Regions from separate parts of the Homo sapiens genome. Here regions 1, 2 and 4 are each reported to be linked to region 3. Evidence: microRNA targets listed by miRTarBase, many of them from high-throughput screens and not tested one by one. Region 3 holds a microRNA gene; each other region holds the end of a gene's coding sequence. Distances are between the middles of the regions.
The links. Region 3 holds the annotated microRNA hsa-miR-544b (ACCUGAGGUUGUGCAUUUCUAA, at 1,277-1,298, opposite strand). A microRNA usually pairs through its seed, bases 2 to 8, with sites in the 3' UTR of a target mRNA and lowers its output. Matches are read on the target gene's strand: a 7mer-m8 pairs with bases 2 to 8, a 7mer-A1 pairs with bases 2 to 7 and ends in A, and an 8mer does both.

Region 1 (5,211 bases), not on the chromosome of region 3:
TTTGGTGTCATAAAACTCACCACAGATAGGTATAATAATAATAATTAACTCTAAAAGTCTCTCAAATAGTAAAAAGCCTATCTCAATAACATTTGTTACCATCAAAAAATTGTGCAAGGAATTTTATATTCACATGAAAGCAACAGCAATGTATAGATGATGGATCAAGGGAAAAAAGGCCCTATTTGTAGTTATTATTTTTAAAATCTCTAGTTTTAAAAACACAGGGATATAACAGGAAGCTGATAGTTATTAAACCATATTTTCTATGACATCAAATAAGTCCATGTGTAATTGGTATTCCGTTTTATCTTAAATCTTAAGAGGCTTTTTACATCTTTTTTTTAAAAACGATTTTCCTCTCCTTTCTACTTCCACACTACTCCAATCTATTTTTTTTCTTTATAGATGATGTGGAAACCTGCCTATGATTTTCTGTATACCTGGAGTGCTCACTATGGAAATAACTACAGAGATGTGTTACAAGACCTTCAGTCAGCTTTGGACAGAATGAAAAACCCTGTGACTAAACACTGGAGAGAATTAACTGGAGTTTTAATACTAGTAAATTCTTTGGAGGTTTTGAGAGTAACTGCATTCTCCACTTCTGAGGAAGTATAGAAACAAAGCGTGTGTTTTTGATGGGAGGGAAAATGAGGTAATGGTGTGTGTGTGTGTGTGTCTGTGTGTGTCTGTGTGTGTCTCTGTGTGTCTGTGTGTGTGTGTCTGTGTGTGTGTGTCTGTGTGTGTGTGTGTGTGTGTGTAGGAAAGAAAGAATCTCAGAAAAGCATTATATTAATTTTCTTCATGCTCAAAACCAGTTTTTTTTTCCTGATGAAAGCACAGCCTAACTGATAACCAAGATGGGTTTTATCCTCAAATATGTATTTTTGTGTATGTTTCAAATACAAGTATTAGGCTGCTTTGTTCTTAGAAAGGAAAGAAAAAAGAAAAGTGCCCTCTCTCTCTTTCAGTGTTATTTTAAATTTACTAAGTCAAAGCTGTTTGAATAATTACATCACACAGATATCTGGGTAAACTAGAGACTATCAACATGATCAAGGCAGTGTTCCCAGGAGGCAGCTAGAAAGAGGGGAAGCAAGCACACACCCTGTGGCCAGTCACGGCTGCCCGCTTTCCACACCTGACCTCTTCAGTTCATCAGTGGGGTTCACCAGCATCACCCCCATTTTTCATGGGGAGAAACTCAGAAGTGGAGAGAACGTCTGAGGCTACATAGCCAGTACAAAGTAGGTTTTCTGCTTGAAAAACCTGTTTCTATTTCTTTTTAAAAAATCATACTGCATAACAGAATAGTAAAAACAAAATGCGTGTTAAGACTTACAGGGAAACAGTTGCCGTTTCATTTTAAGTGAGACTTGCTACTCTTTTTCATCGTCTCTTGAAAGACTGACAGAAGGAAAATATGACTTATCAGAAATCTGTTGTCTGCATGCATGGACCTAGTGTTTTCATCAGCTCCCTTCAGCATCTTGGGACCTCTCTAATCCTGCCTAATTTGGGACTTTTTCTGCAGGATTGTAATGTAAAATAGTTCTTTAGCTCTTGGAGATTTTTAATAATACGAGTTATTAAAAACCACCACCACCAGAAACTTGATTAACTTGATTACCCTGTTGAGTAGAGAGGTCTTAACCACCGAAAACACTGATATCTTTATGTTGGCATGCTCATGCAAACACATGTGTGTGTGTGTGTGTGTGTGTGTGTGTGTGTGTGTACCACAGTGTTTTATAAAGCACAGCCTAATTGATTATATAGGACAAAAATTGTATAGGACCCTGGGTCAGTATAAATGCTAATGGCTGACAAAGTTCACAAAGAGATGTATTTTGCTTACTCCTCTGTTCAATCCTCTGGTTGCCTGCCAGTGTTTATGTGTGTATTTGGACAGACATTCATTTATTGTCATTCAGTCAATAGGTAGAGTATATGTGTCTATTTTTTGGCAGGCATATAGATGCTTGAGGCTAATGGGAAAAAACCAGCATGAACTCTGACTTTAGTAGTGCTAAGTAATAGATAATTTTAAAAAATGACACCGTTAAATAGAAAATGGCATGCATACTAACAGTTGCAATGGAGAGGCTGTGATGCTACGAGATATAAACGTAGAGATGCCATCATGTGAAACTGGAAGTGGGGGTGGGTCAGGGAAATTTGTTCTTGGAAAGAAATAATGAACCTCAAGGAAGAGTAGGCATTGTCCTGGTGTGGTGGGGTGTAAGCGGTGATCCCACAAAGCACTGAAGCTCTTAGATGGGTGGGAGCTGAATAGGTGCAGATAGCAGGGGTGAAGGAGTGAAAGGATAAAAGATTCAAGGTTGAGATGAGGATGGAGCAAGAAGAAGCCACATTAGGGCCATTAAGGCTGCTAGAATTTAGAAAGAAAACACACAGCCTCAAAGAAATGTGGGTAAGCCAAAGAAGGATTTTGTTTTGGGAACCTGAATAAAAGATGTCCATTTGGCTAAAAAGTAAAAGCAGAATCTTTTTAGGGCTTTTAATATACCCACCCTGGGATATTTGGTATGCTGGCAATGGTAATTCAAATTGGCGTTTAAGAATAATCTTGGCCGGGCGCGATGGCTCATGCCTGAAATCCCAGCACTTTGGGAGGCCGAGGCGGGCAGATCACTAGGTCAGGAGATCGAGACCATCCTGGCTAACGCGGTGAAACCCCGTCTCTACTAAAAATACAAAAAATTAGCCGGGCGTGGTGGCAGGCGCCTGTAGTCCCAGCTACTCAGGAGGCTGAGGCAGGAGAATGGCGTGAACCCGGGAGGCGGAGCTTGCAGTGAGCCGAGTTCATGCCACTGCACTCCAGCCTGGGTGACAGGCTGTCTCAAAAAAAAAAAAAGGAATAATCTGTACGGCTTTCAGTATTTATATTTGATTATAAGGGAACACAGCCTGACCAAATAATTATGTATACACATTCAAGGACAGAATTTATTTTAATTAAAAATAAATTATGAGAGAAGGAAAAAAAAGCACAGTTTTTACTTTCAGAACACAGTCCTTTTTTGTGGTGATTTTGCTTTCTTTAGAACATTCTTGGAATCTTATTAACATGTCAGCTAACCAGAGAATTTTGGGAAGGGATAGTGGGGATTAATAACTGGGTTTTTCCAGGCTCCAAGATCTAAGAAGACAGAGATCTTGTTAGCTGATTAGTGTAGTAAGATTAAATAAATAATTTAAGGTTTACATTGCATCATGTATTATGATTGTGATTGAGAATAATAAGAGTTTAAAAAAATGAAAAACAAGATCTCTGTAATTTGAGGATGAAACAATGGTTCTAATATTAATACACACAAATATATTTTATAATCTTGTAACAAATCCTTCCAGGGGAAATTTTTTTTTTTTTTTTTTTTTTTTTTTTTTGAGCCAGAGTCTGGCTCTGTTGCCCAGACTGGAGTGCGGTGTTTCAATCTTGACTCACTGCAACCTCCACCTCCTGGGTTCAAAAGATCCTTCTGCCTCCGCCTCCCAAGTAGCTGGGATTACAGGCATGCACCACCTTGTCCGGGTAATTTTTGTATTTTTAGTGGAGACAAGGTTTTACCATTTTGGCCAGACTGGTCTGGAACTCCTGACCTCAGGTCATCCACCTGCCTCGGCCTCCCAGAGTGCTAGGATTACAGGCATGAGCCACTGCTCCCAGCCTTCCAGAGGAATTTTAAGCCCATGTCCAAACATTCTGTTTGTATAAATATATTCTAATTTTTAAATAAATAGTTTCTACTTTTCTGAACTTTATATTTTTTCTTGCTATAATGGATTTTCATAATCAGAAAAGATTAAATTAGTAATCATGAATTGCCTTCAATATTTGGCAGTAAGTCAATGAAATAATAAGGCACTTATATACCATCTTTGACATCATTAAAAGTATCAAATCCCATTAATCTAAAACTTCTTTAAGCATTTTGAAAGCAGAAAATGTTTACATGGTTCTTTCAGTTCCTCAGGCTTTTTGTCTAATGATGCGTGACTTAGGATAAGATTTGAATTAAGTGCCCAGCTTGAAACATAATAATTTTTCTGTATAAGCCACAGATCCTCTACCTCCTTTGTGTTAAAGCCTTTATATGAAACAATTAAGTAGAAGCATTCAATAGTGTGTCATTAACTGTTCATACTAATAAATGGATACAGCACATTTTCATGGCCTGTAATGTAGAACATACTATATAAAGTTCTCAGTTTGGGGATGACTAGGTTTCTGGAAGGAATAGAATGCTAAATCAATGGATGGCATTGGGCTGAGAAACACTGCTGCTACTAATCAGCCTTGAATGTGTAATGTGAACATGCAAAAGAGAACATGCATACACTCAAATTTGTACAATGCTATAACTGGAAGTTGAAGGACTTGAATTTTTATATTGTGCTATTGTTATGTTTTCTGTAATTGTTTATATCTAAGGAATTTTTGAGGTAATATAAAAGAAAAAGAGAATAATGAACAATGATGTCACTGGAGGGTTTTTACATTAAATTAGATCATTTTTCTTCTTATTCACAATAATAATCTTAATCTTTAAGAATTAATTATAATTTAATATTATAATTCATAATCTTTAAGAATTAATAATTATAATTTAATATTATAATTAATAATCTTTAAGAATTAATAATATAATTTAATATTATAATTAATAATCTTTAAGAATTAATAATTACAATTAATAATTAATAATAATCTTAATCTTTAAGAATTAATAATAATCCTTAATCGCAATAATAATCGCAAGGAGGAGAAGTAAGTCCCTCCTCCTTCTGTATGAACTTTTCTCCCACATGCTGCTGTATGGTTTAGTGAGAGTGAAGTTCTAAAGAACATCAATATGATTGGTGGGATAATCCAAAGACATTTTTTCAGAATCAAATGGCATGTCGAAGGTTTGTTTCTTGCATATGTATTTACTGGTCCACAGCACAAAATAAAGTGACCACATATACATAGGAAAGTTGAATTTGTACACATACAGCATCTGAAATGTATCTGATGTTCAGCATCAAGATTTCACTGAACATTGTAGAAATGTGTATCTTTTGCATGTATATTTTACATTGATTTTCTATTTATGTACATCTAGAAAGTTTTAACCCTAATAAATAGTTTTGTAATTTTGAATAATAGTGTCAGTTTATATGTGAGGGAGTAGAGACAGAGAG
Region 2 (5,211 bases), 12 Mb from region 3:
TTTCACCACCCAGGACAGTAGGGACATGGTCAAAACTTAACTAACTATTGAGGCTGCCACATTGGCTGGAATATGCCAGCTGGATTCCACAGAGGCCCCAGACTGAGGCACTGCCTATCAAGTGGCTGCAACTCCTGCTTGGAATTGTAGAAATCCCATGCTGACATCAGAGGTGCACAGAGTATGAGGACCAATACTTCTAAAAGGGTAAAGTCATAGCTCTCCAGAAATCCTTTGGAACCAGAAAGACAAAACAGTCACATCTGTTGAATAGGTGAAGAGGGCTGATTCATCAACTCCACATGTGGGTGAGTATCCTTCACAGACTTCTTTGGCTGAGCAGACCACATCTTAAGCACCAGCACCAGGACAAAGTATCAGTGCAACCAGAGGCAGAAAGTTGGGCTGGGGAGACCAAGACAGGGTCAAAAAAAGAAGCTAGAAGAACTTTGCAACAAAAGCACTTTCTAACAAGCATTAGAAGGGTGTATTGTGGATGTGCTCCCCATTACTCTAGCAACTCAAAAAGATGACTGGCCATCTGTTGGTACTGCTTTGCAAGAGAATCATGCGGGAGATAGGAAAGCTGTCTAAATGTAGTAGCTTTCTGGGTTAAGACAAGCCCAGGGGAACAGACCACCAACCTCCCTCACCCCTACTCTTAGGCCAACCCTTAGAAGTCCATCTCACCTTCCTCATCAGCTGAGTGGTAGTACTTTGAAATGATCAGAACACAGGCTTGGCTGGGGTCAAACCCATCTGAGTTCAAATCCCAGCTTCACCACTTGTCAGCTGTGTAGCTCAGGAGGAACTGGATTAACACAAGGCGGGGCAGGACCAGCAAGACCCTAGCAGTGCTTCCTACACCACAGCTCACCATATTATCTGCTCTCAGTTTAAAGACAGACACTTGTCAGCTATCAGCTCAGTGGACCCAAGTATTTCCCATTTACAAAATTCAGTGTATTTTCTTTTTCCCTTTAAGGTGAGGGCACCAGCTGGGGAAGGCATTCCCACACAAGAGAACACTCAACTGTCATTACTCTCAAGGTATTCCGTGGTCCATGGAGGCTGGTCCACTTGACAAAGCTTCCAAGGTCTTGTGGCTTTGAGTTTCTTTGACCAGCTGAGTTTCTGTACGGGAGTTTCCCCACCATCCAAGGCTTCCGTAAAGCTGCTAGCCCAGCTGCTCTCCTGAGCTGGTTCCTCTACCATCTTACAGCCCCTCTACCATCTCGGTGTCCAGACTGCACAACCTGGTGAAACACTTCTTGGACTCTTACCTCCAAAAAGAAAAAAAAGAGCTTGTATGTACTCTTTTATGGACCATAGCAGAGATCACGAAAACAAGAACTGTGGGCTCAGAAAACTCACTAGGCAAGCAAGGGAGGGACAGACTGTCCAGGACCACCTACGTGGGCTAAGGACTCTGGAGAACAGGGAGCTCTGGAAGTGGCGCTGGAGCAGAGGAATGCAACAAAATCTGGATCTGGAGTTAGTATGGTAGCTGAGAACAGGACTTCCAGCTCAGTGGGAGGCCACAGAGATCAGTGAAGAGACTGCTGCAAAAGTCCTCAGAGCCCAACTAGGATTGGTGACTGAAGGAGAGTGGAAAGATGCTTTAAGAAAAAAAAAAAAAAAAAAAAAAAAAGAATGACTCTTAAGGGCTACTGGGAATGGGGGGTAGGGGAAAATATTTTTGAAATGGGAAAAGTGGAGAATAAACAGTCACACATTAAGTTGACCTTGAAATAATGATTCACTGTCCAAGCAGTGCTTACAGATCTCTGGAGCCAAGGGAAAGCCATCAGTAGTGGGAGGGCCCTGGGGTTTCACCAGAGAGGATGCCTGAGGTGGGGGGGCATCTTGGATCAGCACTCCATGGTTGGTACTTCTGCTCAAACTTAATCTCCAGTTCGGTAAAACTATTAATGTTTTAACTTAGTAAAATCAAGTCAACAGTGTAGGAGGAAAGGCTTTAAAGTGGTTTACAAACAAAAAGGACTAATTCATATTGATAACCACTCAGTTACTAATTGAGGTAGCTTAACCATGTATCTTCAGTTTAAAGACAAAATGAACTACAAAGAAGTCGTGAACTTTAGAAGGTTTATTGTTGATAGAGCTGTAGTGATTCTGAAACTTGTATTTATGGTAGCACTGAGCAAATGAGTGAAATATATTGAGAATAATGGGAGCCAGGGTTATTACTGCTGTGGTAAGAGAGACAATACAGAATGGGGGAAGGCAAAGAAGCACCCATGGTGTTGGATTAAAAGTTTCAGTATGAACTCATGATTTAAAAGTATGATAAATATGTATTCATATATACATGTGTCCCACATATATATACACACACTTATTTGCATAAATTTTCCTAGTTCTGTCTGCTGAAATGCCTCAAAGCAATGATATCCAGTATCAGTGTGAATACCTAGTGCCAATTTTAGCTTCTAAATGACATACCTACTAAAAGAAACTAAGAAACTACTATATACTACTACTACATACCTATTAAAGAAACTCCTTGGAGAAACTGCTGATTCCTGGGCTGGGCAAGGAAAATACAAGATAAGCCTAGAGCATTATCTTGTCAGAAAATAACGAAATACTAAAAAAATCAGTGGGATATATTAAAAGCACTTTGGGAGGCTGAGGCGGGCAGATCACGAAATCAAGAGATCGAGACCATCCTGGCCAATATGGTGAAACCCCGTCTCTACTAAAAATACAAAAATTAGCTGGGCATGGTGGCACACACCTGTAGTCCCAGCTACTCGGGAGGCTGAGGCAGGAGAATTGCTTGAACCTGGGAGGCAGAGGTTGCAGTGAGTCGAGATTGCGCCACCGCACTCCAGCCTGGCGACAGAGCGAGACTCCTTCTCAAAAAATAAATAAATAAAATAAAATAAATCAAGTCCAAAATGATACTAAGAAAACAAAAACAGGAGAAAAGAAAGCTCCCTTCCTTACCTAGAGTTCCAACTAATAAATATGAGAGAGTTAGAAACTCAACATTTTATAATCAATGCAGAATCATTGATTGAGGCAAAAATCATCAATGAATACTAAAATTATTGGGTGAAAGTTTATTTATTTAATTTTCTGAGACAGAATCTAGCTTTGTCACCCAGGCTGGAGCACAGTGGTGTGATCTCGGCTCACTGCAACCTCCGCCTCCCAGGTTCAAGCGATTCTCCTGCCTCAGCCTCCTGAGTAGCTGGGCATGTGCCTCCACATCCGGCTAATTTTTGTATTTTTAGTAGAGATGGGGTTTCACCATGTTGGCCAGGATGGTCTCAAACTCCTGACCTAAGGTGATCTGCCCACTTTGGCCTCCCAAAGTGCTGGGATTACAGGCATGAGCCACTGCGCCTGGCCCAGGTGAAAGTTTATTGACAGACAAGATTAAATAATACCCCACAAATTAGTTATCAGTTACAAAGAGAAAATGGTAACTACCATGGAAAAACCTTTGCAGCCACGACCTTAACCATGTGATCAGAATCAGTTACCAACAGGAGGAAAAACTGACATAATGTGCTTACTAATGTGACGCACTGAAAGGAATATGTGTTAGTCTTATCTGAATCTAAACCTCAGGAAACAGACATCCCAAACTGAAGGACACTCTACCAAATAACCAGCAAGTAAGCTCTCCTCAAAAATGTCAACGTCATGAACGACAGACTATGTAAGACAAAGGACCTTGTTCCTAGGAGATACAAGTTTCTAGGAACACAGGGTCACGAATCTGCAACTGACTTTCAAAGGGGTCAATTAAATAATTATATTGTATATGTTATACAATTATATAATTATATAATGTATAAATACATAATATAAATATATAAATATATATAATCATGTTAGATATAATTATACATTAATTATATTAATAATATAATTAGATATATCTTATATGCATATTATATATTATTAGATATATCTACGTATGGAAGAAATAAAGCAAATGGAGAAAATGTTACCAACTGGAGAATCTAGGTGAAGTGGATACAATACACTTCTTGCAACATTTCTATCGGCTTGAAAATTTTCGCAATTAAAAAGTTTTTTTTTAATTTTAAGAACACATTTCTGGAAATAACCTGAGTCAACATAGGGTGCTATGCCTTATTGAGCATCTGTACTGCTAAACACATATACCACAATTGCAAACATCACATTTAATCCTCAATTCATGGAGGAATTAGGAGATAGATAGGGCATATTACCCTATTTTTAAAATAAGGAAACTTAAGCCTAAGAAATACTTTGCCTTAAAAACTTACTATATATCTCACCTATGGATAAAAAAACTAACTCGAGAGGAAAAAGAACAATACCCAGAGGTGTGAAATAAAAATCAGCTCTAGATGATAACACTGTGTACTATTTTTCTTTCTAGTTGTATTGATTTTTCAGATTTCCACCTAAAAAAATCGAATTTATGCTCAAAAAATACAACTTAAAATGTTTAAAAAAGTAAATAATTTTACAGTAAGGCACAAAAGAGATCTTTCTAGAATTTAATAAACTTAGTTATTCTAAGTTATCCAACTATTTGGATTCCCAGGTTTCATGATTGCAAAAGGCAGGAATGGGATGTGAATGGGCAGACAGTAATTCAGTTCTTGGTTTCTTTTCCTTTGATTTGTTTACAATGGAATATTTGCATGTTTTCTCCAAGGACGTTGTACCTTCTTGCTGGCCAAGACATCCAGGTCACAGCAGATTCGGGCACGTGTGGAAGAAGGTTGGATGATGTCATCCACAAACCCTGGTGAAGCACAGAAAAGGGAGTGGATCATCTGCATCCCGAGATGATGCCACCCCTCAACCTTCTGCTCAGCCTGGGCACCATCCCTGGGGCCAGCAGTATAAGCAGTGCCCAACCTGATACAGAGATGGTAGGCCCTGTGAATTCCCCCTTGTATCCCAGGAGCTGGCCTGTTCTGACAGCTCCCCAACTTCTGGCCTAGGAGCACTTGGCAAGAAAAGGAAAATCGGACACCCTCCCTATACCCTGCTTGCTCCAATGCCTCCATCCTGCCACAATGAATTCAATAGGAAATAAAGAAAATACATCTAGGTTTTCAAAAATGGCTATAACAATTCATCCTTGTACACAAGTCCTGCAATGTGACTTTACCACTTCTCTCTTCAAGAGGTGGATTTGTATTCCTTCGCTTAACCTTGTTGAGTTTTCTT
Region 3 (5,379 bases):
TGTAGCTCTCTCAGGTCCTTACTTCCAAGATGACAAAGAAAAGAAAGGAACAATGATCGTGCCAAAAAGGGCTGTGGCCAGTAGTGGCACATACTATGTCCGATGCATGCCCAAGGAAAAGACCATTAAGAAGCTCGTCGTGCAAAACATAGTAGAGGCCGCAGCAGTCAGGGACATTACTGCAGTGAGCAACTTTGCCTCCTATGTTCTTCCCAAGCTGTATGCGAAGCTACATTAAGGTGTGAGTTGTGCCATTCACAGCAAGGCAGTCAGTAATCCATCTTGTGAATCCCACAAGGACCAAATACCCCAATCTGATTTAAACCTGTGGGTGCTGCCTCATGACCCTCACCAAAGCCCATGTAAGGAGCTGAATCCTTAAGGACTGAAGAGAAACTATTCTCTTGAGGAAAAGAAAATGGAAATTGTACTTTTTAAAGAAGAGAATTCTTCTGTATATCATTAAATTATAACAAGCATATGATTAATTCAAACATGATTTGCAAATTTTGACAGAGAGATAAAAACAGATTTGGAAAATGCATTTTTAGTGAGTTAATGCTACCTTTCCTCTCCAATTACTTTATGTACACTAATGTGTATATAGTACTATAGTCAAATATCACTTATTATCACTTATTAAGGGAAGTTAGAGTTTAGCATAAATTATATTGCTTTTTGGGGTGTAAATACTGAGAAATTCTATTCGCATAAGATGTGAAAAGAAGTTTTGTTATACCCAAGTCTCTCCATGTTTTGAACTCCTCCCCAGTTAATCACCAAAATACACACACACACACACACACACACACACACCATGATCTAGTTATCAAAAAACTTTTTCTGTCATTTATCAGCTGGCTTATTAAAATAAATCAATTTTTCCCTAGAAAATCCTTAGTAATTCTCCACATTGCTAAGATACACCATAGCAAGATTCTGGATGGTGAGAAGTTAATGGTCCAAAGTACCGCAACCTTAATAGTCCAACCTATCTTCAATACTTTTTACAATAACCACACAAAGTGGTCCCTAGTGAACATAAACCCTTAAGTGGGCTGAGGAAACTTATATGTCTTCTTGATAGAACTTTCTGCAATGATGGAAATGTTCTCTATCTTTGCAGTCCAATATGATAGCCACTGGCCATATATGACTATTTAAACTTAAAAATTCATAATGCTCAATAGTAACACGTGGCTAGTAGCAAACTGTATTGGAAAGCATATTTACGGCCCTCTACTCAGTGTGGTCTGCAGTTTCAGCTGGCACTTTGTTAGAAATGCACAACCTCAGGTCTAGTCTCAGAGCTACAGAAATGGATTCTGCATTTTAACAAAATTCCCAGGTAATTCATATATACTCAAAGTTGAGAAGCACTGTATTAGAAACCTCTAATTTGTACAAAAATTTTCCTTATATTGACTAAAAACCTGCTTTCCCAATATGTCCACCTTCTAGTCTTAATTATTGCTTCTGGCCGCACAGTGCAAAATTCAACTCCCCTTTCCAAACAGCCCTTCCAAGTGTGGACCTAACAGGAAGAGGCTGAGGCAAAATTAATATGAGTAGTTGCCCTGACTATAGGCTTCGATTACAGTAGTTACAAGTGGATTTTTAAAGCAAAAGAAGGGGCAGTTCCTATATTCACCAAGAATTTGCATTGAAATAACAGGAGGTAGCCCGGGGGTGGCACCAGGCATTTGTAGTCCCAGCTACTTGGGAAGCCGCCAAGGCAAGAGGATCTTTTGAGGCCAGGAGTTTGAGACGAGCCTGGGCAGTATGGTGAGACCTCCTCTCTACAAAAAAAAAAAATTTTTAATTTGGTGGGCATGATGGCACATGCCTGTAGTTCCAGCTACTCAGAGGTTGAGGTAAGAGGATCTCTTTTTTTTTTTTTTTTCTGAGACAGTCTCCCTCTGTTGCCCAGGCTGGAGTGCAGTGGCTCAATTTCGGCTAACTGCAACCTCCTGATTCTTCTGCCTCAGCCTCCTGAGTAGCTGGGATTACAGGTGTGCACCACCATGCCCAGCTAATTTTTGCATTTTCAGTAGAGACAGGGTTTCACCATGTTGGCCAGGCTGGTCTCGAACTCCAGACCTTAAGTGATCCACCCGCCTCAGCCTCCCAAAGAAAGCCTCCCAAAGTTGGGACTACAGGCATGAGCCCCTGTGCTCACCCGAGGCAAGAAGATCTCTTAAGCCCAGGAGTTCCAGGCTGCAGTGAGCTATGATCACAGAGCTGCACTCCAGCCTGGGTGACGTAAGAGAGATCCCATCTAAAAAATAAATAAATAAAATAATAACACAAGCGATTGATTAGCTATACATTGTTCTTTGTATCACACATTCCAGGTACATTAAGATAATGGGAGAGGCAGCTAGTCAGGGACAAAATTCCTTTAAATAATTGTCCCGGGGCTGCATAGGGGAGTATGGTTGAAGTCTCTCTGGGCTCTGATAAATTTTGTATACATCACAGAGTTCTGGTTGTTCTATTTTCCTTTTCTCACCAGTAATTTCCCAGCTACTGAATTCTCTGCCTACCCACGTTTTCCCGGTCTATTTGTTTGTTTTTTGAGGGCAGGGTCTCACTTGTCGCCCAGGCTGGAGTGCAGTGGCGCAATGACAGCTCATTGCAGCCTTGACCTCCCAGGCTCAGGTGATCCTCCCACCTCAGCGTCCCAGGCGTGCGCCACCACACCCAGCTAATTTTTTGTAGAGACGGGGTCTCGTCATGTTGCCCAGGCTGGTCTCGAACTCCTGGGGCTCAGGTGATCTGCCCACTTAGGCATCCCAAAGTGCTGGTATTACTCTCATGAGGCACCACGCCCGGCCGCAAGTCTAATTTTCTTAAAGAGTTAAATATACAGAATTCATTCAAGTGTGCTTCAGTGCCAGAAAGCGTTCCAAACTGGGTTTCCCGACTTTTGCAAAACACGTGTCTAAGCGTGTGGGTGAAAGAACAGACGACTCTCGAGGAGCCCAACCCCTGGCCTCTGTGCTTCTCATGCTTACTCCCCAAACCAAGAGTAGGGTCGGTCTGCCTGCTTGGCTCTTTTGCTCTCACTCACGGCCCAACTCCTGTCACCCTCTTCCATTTCCTTGTCCTCCTTCCCGCCACCAAGCCCTGTCCTTTCCCTTCCTAGGCCAGCACCTGACTCAGAAGACGCGGTCGAGACACGATGCCCCGCAGATCGATGTAGATGGGGGAGGAAAGCCCGCTCTTCAGCACGAAGTCCCCAAACTTGAAAGCCTGCACGTCGTACAGACCCGTCACCAATGGCCCCAAAGCTGCACGAGCGACCGCCATTGTCGCGCGCTGCCTGTTTGCTTCAAATTCCCAGGCGCCCCGGGCCTCCGGCGCCCCGATGACGTCACCCGCGAAGTCCCGCCTCTTCCGCCTGCCTCGTCTGCAGCTTTCCCGGCTTGCTGCACCCGTGGGTTTCCCCGGGCTCAAGGGTCAGGTGGATGGTAGCGAACCTAGCGCCAGTTTGTGCTTCTCCTGGTTTCTTCTGGATGGGGTCGCTGGGGTTCAAAGCCCAGAACAGCTAGATTGACTGTAGGATCATGAAGTCCCACCTTTCATGAGAGTTTGCATAAATCCTGTCCATTTTTTAATAGCCAATGCCTTCTCGACTAGTTCTCTTAATTATCTCTACTCCTTGGCCTAACATGTTATATTTGCTAGTTATTAGCCAAGATTTACCCCCCATGTTTCTCCAAATAGAATATAAGTTATCAAAGACAGGGACCTTTACTCAATTCTTTTATTAACTTCATAGCATCTAGTACGTGACAGTTCCATAGCAGTTTGCACATAGGAATATATAGCACTTAGATCATTACAGTATTCATTACCTCTTTTGTCTGTACTCTGCTTCCTGGAGGAGTACTTTTTTATTTCCTTTGGCGTACCTCAAATGCTTAGGTAATAGGTGTAGAAAAGGTAAGGGAGGGAAGGAGGAGAGTTAGAAGACGGTTAATTGATTGGTATCAGGGTTATCCAGGAGGATAATATTGCTAGACAATCTGAAAATCCAAACATATTTGGTCTTTACAAATAAATCCCTTAAAGAAATAATCAATAAATAATCTGTACAAATAAATCCCTTCTCCATTGTGTATATAAGGCAATACTTTATTCTAGCTTAAGGAAAATAACCCTTAAATTCACATAAAGAATGAAACCTTGTCATTTGCAGCAAGGTGGATGAACCTGAAGGACATTATGTTAGTGAAACAAGCCAGGAACAGGAAGATAAATACCAAATGTTCTCGCTCATATGCAGAAGCTAAAAAAGTTGATCTCATGGAGCTAGAGAATAAAATAGTAATCACTAGAGGCTGGGAAGGGTAGGGGGTGGTTAAAGGACACAAATTACAGCTAGATAGGAGGAATAAGTCCTAGTGTTCCATTGCACTGTAGGGTGACTGTAGTCAATAATAATTTACTATATATTTTAAAATAGCTAGAAGAGGGGCGTTTGAATGTTCCCAACACAAAGAAAGGATAAATATTTAAGGTGAGGAATATATGAATTACTCTGATTTGATCACTGTACATTGTGTGTATTGAAATAGCACTATGTACCCAATAAATGTGTACGATATCATGTGTCAACTATAACAAATACTTTTTTAAAAAAGAGGAACAGATAAGGCATAGCTGTATAGTGCACTACAAAGAACATGAAGTTTCAAACCAAAACATTTGGATTTTAGTCCCATTCTACTTACTGGCTGAGTGATCTTTGGCAATGCATTTTGAGCTATATGAGTCTCAATTTTCTCAAAAATAGAATGAAGAAGCCGGGCGCGGTGGCTCACGCCTGTAATCCCAGCACTTTGGGAGGCTGAGGCGGGCGGATCACGAGGTCAGGAGATCAAGACCATCTTGGCTAACATGGTGAAACCCCGTCTCTACTAAAAATACAAAAAAATTAGCTGGGCATGGTGGTAGGCGCCTGTAGTCCCAGCTACTCGGGAGGCTGAGGCAGGAGAATGGTGTGAACCCGGGAGGCAAAGCTTGCAGTGAGCCGAGATCGCATCACTGCACTCCAGGCTGGGCGAAAGAGCCAGACTGCGCTCAAAAAAAAAAAAAAAGAATGAAGATAATAATATTAACTTTCTCCAAAAATCACTATGAAGATTCAATAAGATAGTTCACTCAAAAACACTTGATAAAAAGTTGGTAGAGCTGAGTGTGGTGGCTCATGCCTGTAATCCCAGTACTTTGGGAGGCCGAGGGAAGTGGATCACCTGAGGTTGAGAGTTCGAGACCAGCCCAGTCAACATGATGAAACCCCGTCTCTACCAAAAAATACAAAAATTAGCCGGGCATAGTAGCACATGCCTATAGTCCCAGCTACTTGGGAGG
Region 4 (5,211 bases), not on the chromosome of region 3:
GAGCCAGACACAAAAGGGTACATGTTGCATGATTTTGTTTATATGAATGTACAGAATAGGCAAATCCATAGAGATAGAGTAGATTAGTGAGCCAGGTGCAGTGGTGGGCACCTGTAGTCCCAGCTACTCTAGAGGCTGAGACAGGAGGATCACTTGAACCTGGGAGTTTGAGTCTAGCTGGGCAACATAGCAAGACCCTATCTCTAATAAGGGGGAAAAAAAGTAGATTAGTGGTTGCCGAAGGCTGAGGGGAATGGAAAGCGACTGCTAATGGGCATATCATTTCTCTTTGGAGTGATGAAAGTGTTCTAGGTGATGGTTGCACAAGCTAGTGAATATACTAAAAACCACTAGGCCGTACACTTTTTAAAAGAGTGGATTTTGGCCAGCCACAATGGTTCATACCTGTAATCCCAGCACTTTGGGAGGCCGAGGCGGGCGGATCACGAGGTCAGGAGAACAAGACCATCTTGGCCAACATGGTGAAACCCCATCTCTACTAAAATGCAAAAAATTAGCCGGGCGTGGTAGCGCGTGCCTGTAATCCCAGCTACTTGGGAGGCTGAGACAGAGGAATCGCTTGAACCCCGGAGGCGGAGGTTGCAGTAAGCTGAGATCGTGCCACTGCACTCCAGCCTGGCGACAGAGCAAGACTATCTCAAAAAAAAAGAAAAAAAGAGTGGATTTTATGGTGAATGAACTAATATTTCCAAAGAGGAAAGTGATAGAAAATAAAGATTTTAAACACTGAAATTCTCAAAATCATTTTAATCTAAAATGTGCAGGTTTTATTAATCCCTAAAGTGAAATGGTCTCATTATCAACCACTTTAGCTATATATATTTCTTTCAGCCATAGAACGTATTGTCATACAACAAATATTTATTTTAAAAGGTGATGATGAAGATGATGCAGAAGATGAAAATAACATTGATAACAGAACTAACTTCGATGGACCATCTGCAAAACGGCCAAAAACACCGTCTTAACAATAGCCTTCATGACATTTAAAAGATGGCTGTTGTATCCTTATTGTCACACTAGGACATTTAAGGAAGACTTATGCTCTAATTTGGAAAAAGCATTTGTGTTGTTCTCCTGGGACAATTTTGTCAAAGAGAAAACTGGTTTTTCTGTTTCTAGCAAAGATAGTAAAGGCTTAGAAATAAAATCTGTTTTCTTGAGAAATAAATTTCAGACCCTGGAAGGAAAATAGAACACTTCATAATGTATAAAATCCTCTAAGTTGGCAACTGAATTTTTATCATTGTTTTCTATTTTTAAAATAATCATTGATTTGTGTGATGTCTACATCTTTTAACTTCTGGTTCTGTTATAAAGAGTACATGTCACGGTTCATAGGCAGTAACATTTCAGAGAACTGACATGAACAAGTAGTGAAAATTGGGCATTAAATATAAAAATAACAGTTCTTCATAAACAGAAGGAAAATAAGGAAATAGAAATACCGACGAGAAAGGAGAGTCCTTGAAAGAGACCCAAGGAAACCCTGAATTCATACCCACGTCAAATATGCACATATCCTGAGATGATGCCACTTTGATGAATGTGCATTAGTCTGATTTATCATGTACCTTAAGAGAGCCAGATGGGGTATGTTTTTGTGCTGTGATATGGTATTTATACAGGTACAAATATAAGGCCTTAAGTAAACAATCTGCATTGATTACAATTTGGATATTTCCTCTCCTCCTGTAGCCATACTTTGATTTTGCTTTAAAAAGATTATTGAATCCTTTTAAAAATATATATTCCTAAAATATGTATGTGTGTGTGTTTCTTTTCTGCTCGTCAGTGGGACTAAGGCATTTTTATTTGCTGTGCATCCTTCCTGATTTAGATAGCTTCAATGCAAAGAAATCAAGTAGCATGTACCTAGTAAAATACAAATAGTCATGGAATTTTAGAGTTGGAAGTCACTTTACAAATTATGTGATTTATTTCAGAGATAAATCTAAGGATAAGTATTTGCCCTCAGATTACAGAGCTAACCATTGACAAACTGGGTTACATAAATAGCCTTTAGATTTTTTTTAAGCTGATAAAAGGTGAGAGAAGATCAACTTTTTTTTTCTTTTTTTTTTTTTTTTTGAGACAGAGTTTCACTCTTGTTGCCCAGGCCGGAGTGCAGTGGCACAATCTTGGCTCACTGCAACCTCTCCCTCCCGGATTCAAGCAATTCTTCTGCCTCAGCCTCCCAAGTAGCTGAAATTACAGGCATGTGCCACCACGCCCAGCTAATTTTGTATTTTTAGTGGAGATGGGGTTTCACCATGTTGGTCAGGCTGGTCTCGAACTCCTGACCTCAGGTGATTCACCCACCTTGGCTTCCCAAAGTGCTGGGATTACAGGCATGAGCCACCACGCCAGGTCAATTTTTTTTTTTTTCCCAGGGTCAACTTTTTTTTCAGATGGAGTCTTGCTCTGTTGCCCAGGCTGGAGTGCAATGGTGCGATCTGGGCACACTGCAACCTCCACCTCCCAGGTTCAAGCAATTGTCCTGCTTCAGCCTCCTGAGTAGCTGGGATTGTAGGTGCACACCACCACGCCCGACTAATTTTTATATTTTTAGTAGAGATGGGGTTTCACCATGTTGGTAAGGCTGGTCTCGAACTCCTGACCTCGTGACCCGCCCGCCTCAGCCTCCCAAAGTGCTGGGATTACAGGCGTGAGCCACCGTGCGTAGCCTTTTTTTCTTTCTTTCTTTTTTAAATTTTTATTTTTAGACAGGGTTTCACTCTGTCACCCAGGCTGGAGTGCAGTGGCACGATCGCGGCTCACTGTCACTGCAACCTCCGAGTCCCAGGCTTAGGTGATCTTCCCACCTCACCCTCTCAAATAGCTGGGACCACAGGCATGCACCAGCACACCTGGCTAATTTTTTTGTATTTGTAGAGATGGTTTCACCACGTTGCCCAGGCTGGTCTAGAACTCCTGGACTCAAGGGATCTGCCCACCTCTGCCTCCCAAAGTGCTGGGATTACAGGCGTGAACCACCATGCCCGGACTAATCAACTTTTATGAATCACTTTTATTGTGAAATAATTTAAGTGAAACTCAATTTACACACTTTTTCATATCCTTGAAATATTGTTTTAGTTGGAACAGCAAGCAGCCTTCCACTAAGTACTCTTGGGCAATCAAAACAGTGCCAACTAGAAAAAGTTATGGATGGTCAGAAATTATCTTTGTTTAGTTTATGTTGATGTTTCTAACATTTAACTTATTTATTATAGTACTGTTATCTCTATACAATCATTAAAGAAAAAACTGGTTGGGCACGGTGGCTGATGGCTGTATTCCCAGCACTTTGGGAGGCCGAGGTGGGCGGATCACCTGAGGTCGAGGGTTCGAGACCAGCCCAACCAACATGGAGCAACCCAGTCTCTACTAAAAATACAAAATTTGCCTGGTGTGGTGGCACATGCCTGTATTCCCAGCTACTTGGGAGGCTGAGGCAGGAGAATAGCTTGAAACTGGGAGGCAGAAGTTGCAGTGAGCCAGTGGTGCCATTGCACACCAGACTGGGCAACAAGAGCGAAACTCCATCTCAAAAAAGAAAAGAAAAAAACTTACCTGTATATACTGAAAAGAGAGCACATTGTTAAACTGATATTTGAACCTTTTCTCTGAACATTTTATGTTTCCTCCTTTGGAAAATGTGGTTATAAAGAAGAAATTTCAAGATAATATTTGTGTTTGTGTCCCAGTGTTTTTAGGTTCTGATTTATAAGATTGGTCTTTTAATTAATTTTAATACTGATTTCAATTCTAATACTGTCTTCTTCATAAGTAAGCCATGTGTTTGACAAAGATGGACCAGTATAGAAGAAATGCTTTGCCAAGTTGCCTAATCTGCTGCTGCTCTTGGGTCTCACTGTCACTCAGGCTGGAGTACAGTGGCGCAATCAGCTCACTGCAGCCTGGAATTCCTGGGCTCAGGTGATCCTCGCACCACAGCTTCCCAAGCAGCCAAGCACTAGGTGTGTGCCATCACGCCAGGCTAATTTATTTTTTATCTTATTTCTTCTTTTTTTTTTTTTAGACGGAATTTCGCTCTTGTTGCCCAGGCTGGAGTGCAATGGTGCAATCTTGGCTCATTACAACTTCCACCTCCCAGGTTCAAGCGATTCTCCTGCCTCAGCCTCACAAGTAACTGGGACTACCGGCATGCGCCACCAGGCCAGGCTAATTTTGTATTTTTAGTAGAGATGGGGTTTCTCCATGTTGATTAGGCTGATCTCAAACTCCCGACCTCAGGTAATCCACCCGCCTTGGCCTTCCAAAGTGCTGGGATTACAGACACCGCACCCGGCCATTTTTTTTTTTTTTTTTTTTTGAAATGGAGTTTCACTCTTTTTGCCCGGGCTGGAGTGAAATGGCATGGTCTTGGCTCACTGTAACATCCACCTCCCAGGTTCAAGCGATTCTCATGCCTCAGCCTCCCAAGCAGCTGGGATTACAGGTGCCTGCCACCACGCCTGGCTAATTTTTGTATTTTAGTAGAGACATGGTTTCACCATGTTGGCCAGGCTGGTCTTGAACTCCTGACCTTAGGTGATCCACCCACTTTGGCCTCCCAAAGTGCTTGGATTACAGGTGTGAGCCACCGTGCCCAGCTGCCAGGCTAATTTTTTAATTTTTTGTAGAGATGGGGGCCTTGCTTTGTAGCCCTGGGTGGTCTTAAAACTCTTGGCTGTAAGCGATCCTCCTGCCTTGGCCTCCCAAAGTGCTAGGATTACAGGCATGAGCCACCGCACCTGACAAATCTGCCTTCTGTGGTACAAACAGCCACAGGCAAGCAGAATAAAGTTACTCTTTGAAACAGCTCCAACTTTACTTTTGAACAGGAAAGTCAGCCGCACAATCCTACCTAAAAATAAGCTTGACATTAGACTTAGATAAATCTTTTAAAATGTGAAACATATGGAATTTATGCAAGATAGATGTGTTTTCTAAAAGTAAGTCCTTTTGCGTCACAGAAATGTTTATTTTAATAATAGAATTCTGTGGCCAAGGACGAGAACTTTTTTATAATAGGTTGTGGTTGCTTGGCTATAATATTAGGTTGGTGCAAAATTAATTTTAAGACATTTAAACCTTTTTGGGAAGAAAAACTTACTTTGGAAAAGTAGGAAAAAAAATGTATGTGAGGAAATCAATTCCCCCGCCTCTCCATTTAGAAATGGG

Region 1: miRTarBase lists MACC1 as a target of hsa-miR-544b. Seed matches in the 3' UTR shown: 7mer-A1 at 2,767-2,773, 7mer-m8 at 3,627-3,633 and 7mer-m8 at 3,996-4,002.
Region 2: the mRNA of PCCB is a reported target of hsa-miR-544b. The part of its 3' UTR that is shown has no 7-base or 8-base seed match.
Region 4: miRTarBase lists GON7 as a target of hsa-miR-544b. The part of its 3' UTR that is shown has no 7-base or 8-base seed match.

What each region holds. Positions count from the first base shown.
Region 1 is chr7:20,136,356-20,141,566 of GRCh38, reverse strand. MACC1 (MET transcriptional regulator MACC1) reads left to right here. Exons shown (of 7, transcript NM_182762.4): 7 at 409-5,211. The coding sequence ends at 621. MACC1-OT1 (MACC1 3' UTR overlapping transcript 1) reads left to right here and starts at 1,141. Exons shown (of 6, transcript NR_110114.1): 1 at 1,141-1,250.
Region 2 is chr3:136,329,474-136,334,684 of GRCh38, reverse strand. PCCB (propionyl-CoA carboxylase subunit beta) reads right to left here. Exons shown (of 15, transcript NM_000532.5): 15 at 4,516-4,780. The coding sequence ends at 4,659. Among named protein-coding and RNA genes, the nearest start is that of PCCB, 82 kb to the right of the region's middle.
Region 3 is chr3:124,728,405-124,733,783 of GRCh38, reverse strand. MIR544B (microRNA 544b) reads right to left here and starts at 1,345; the gene lies at 1,268-1,345. UMPS (uridine monophosphate synthetase) reads right to left here and starts at 3,332. Exons shown (of 6, transcript NM_000373.4): 1 at 3,157-3,332. The coding sequence starts at 3,312. It also overlaps the pseudogene RPS26P22. RefSeq lists enhancers at 3,253-3,662, 3,075-3,674.
Region 4 is chr14:93,199,466-93,204,676 of GRCh38, reverse strand. GON7 (GON7 subunit of KEOPS complex) reads left to right here. Exons shown (of 2, transcript NM_032490.5): 2 at 895-1,783. The coding sequence ends at 989. Among named protein-coding and RNA genes, the nearest start is that of GON7, 5.0 kb to the left of the region's middle.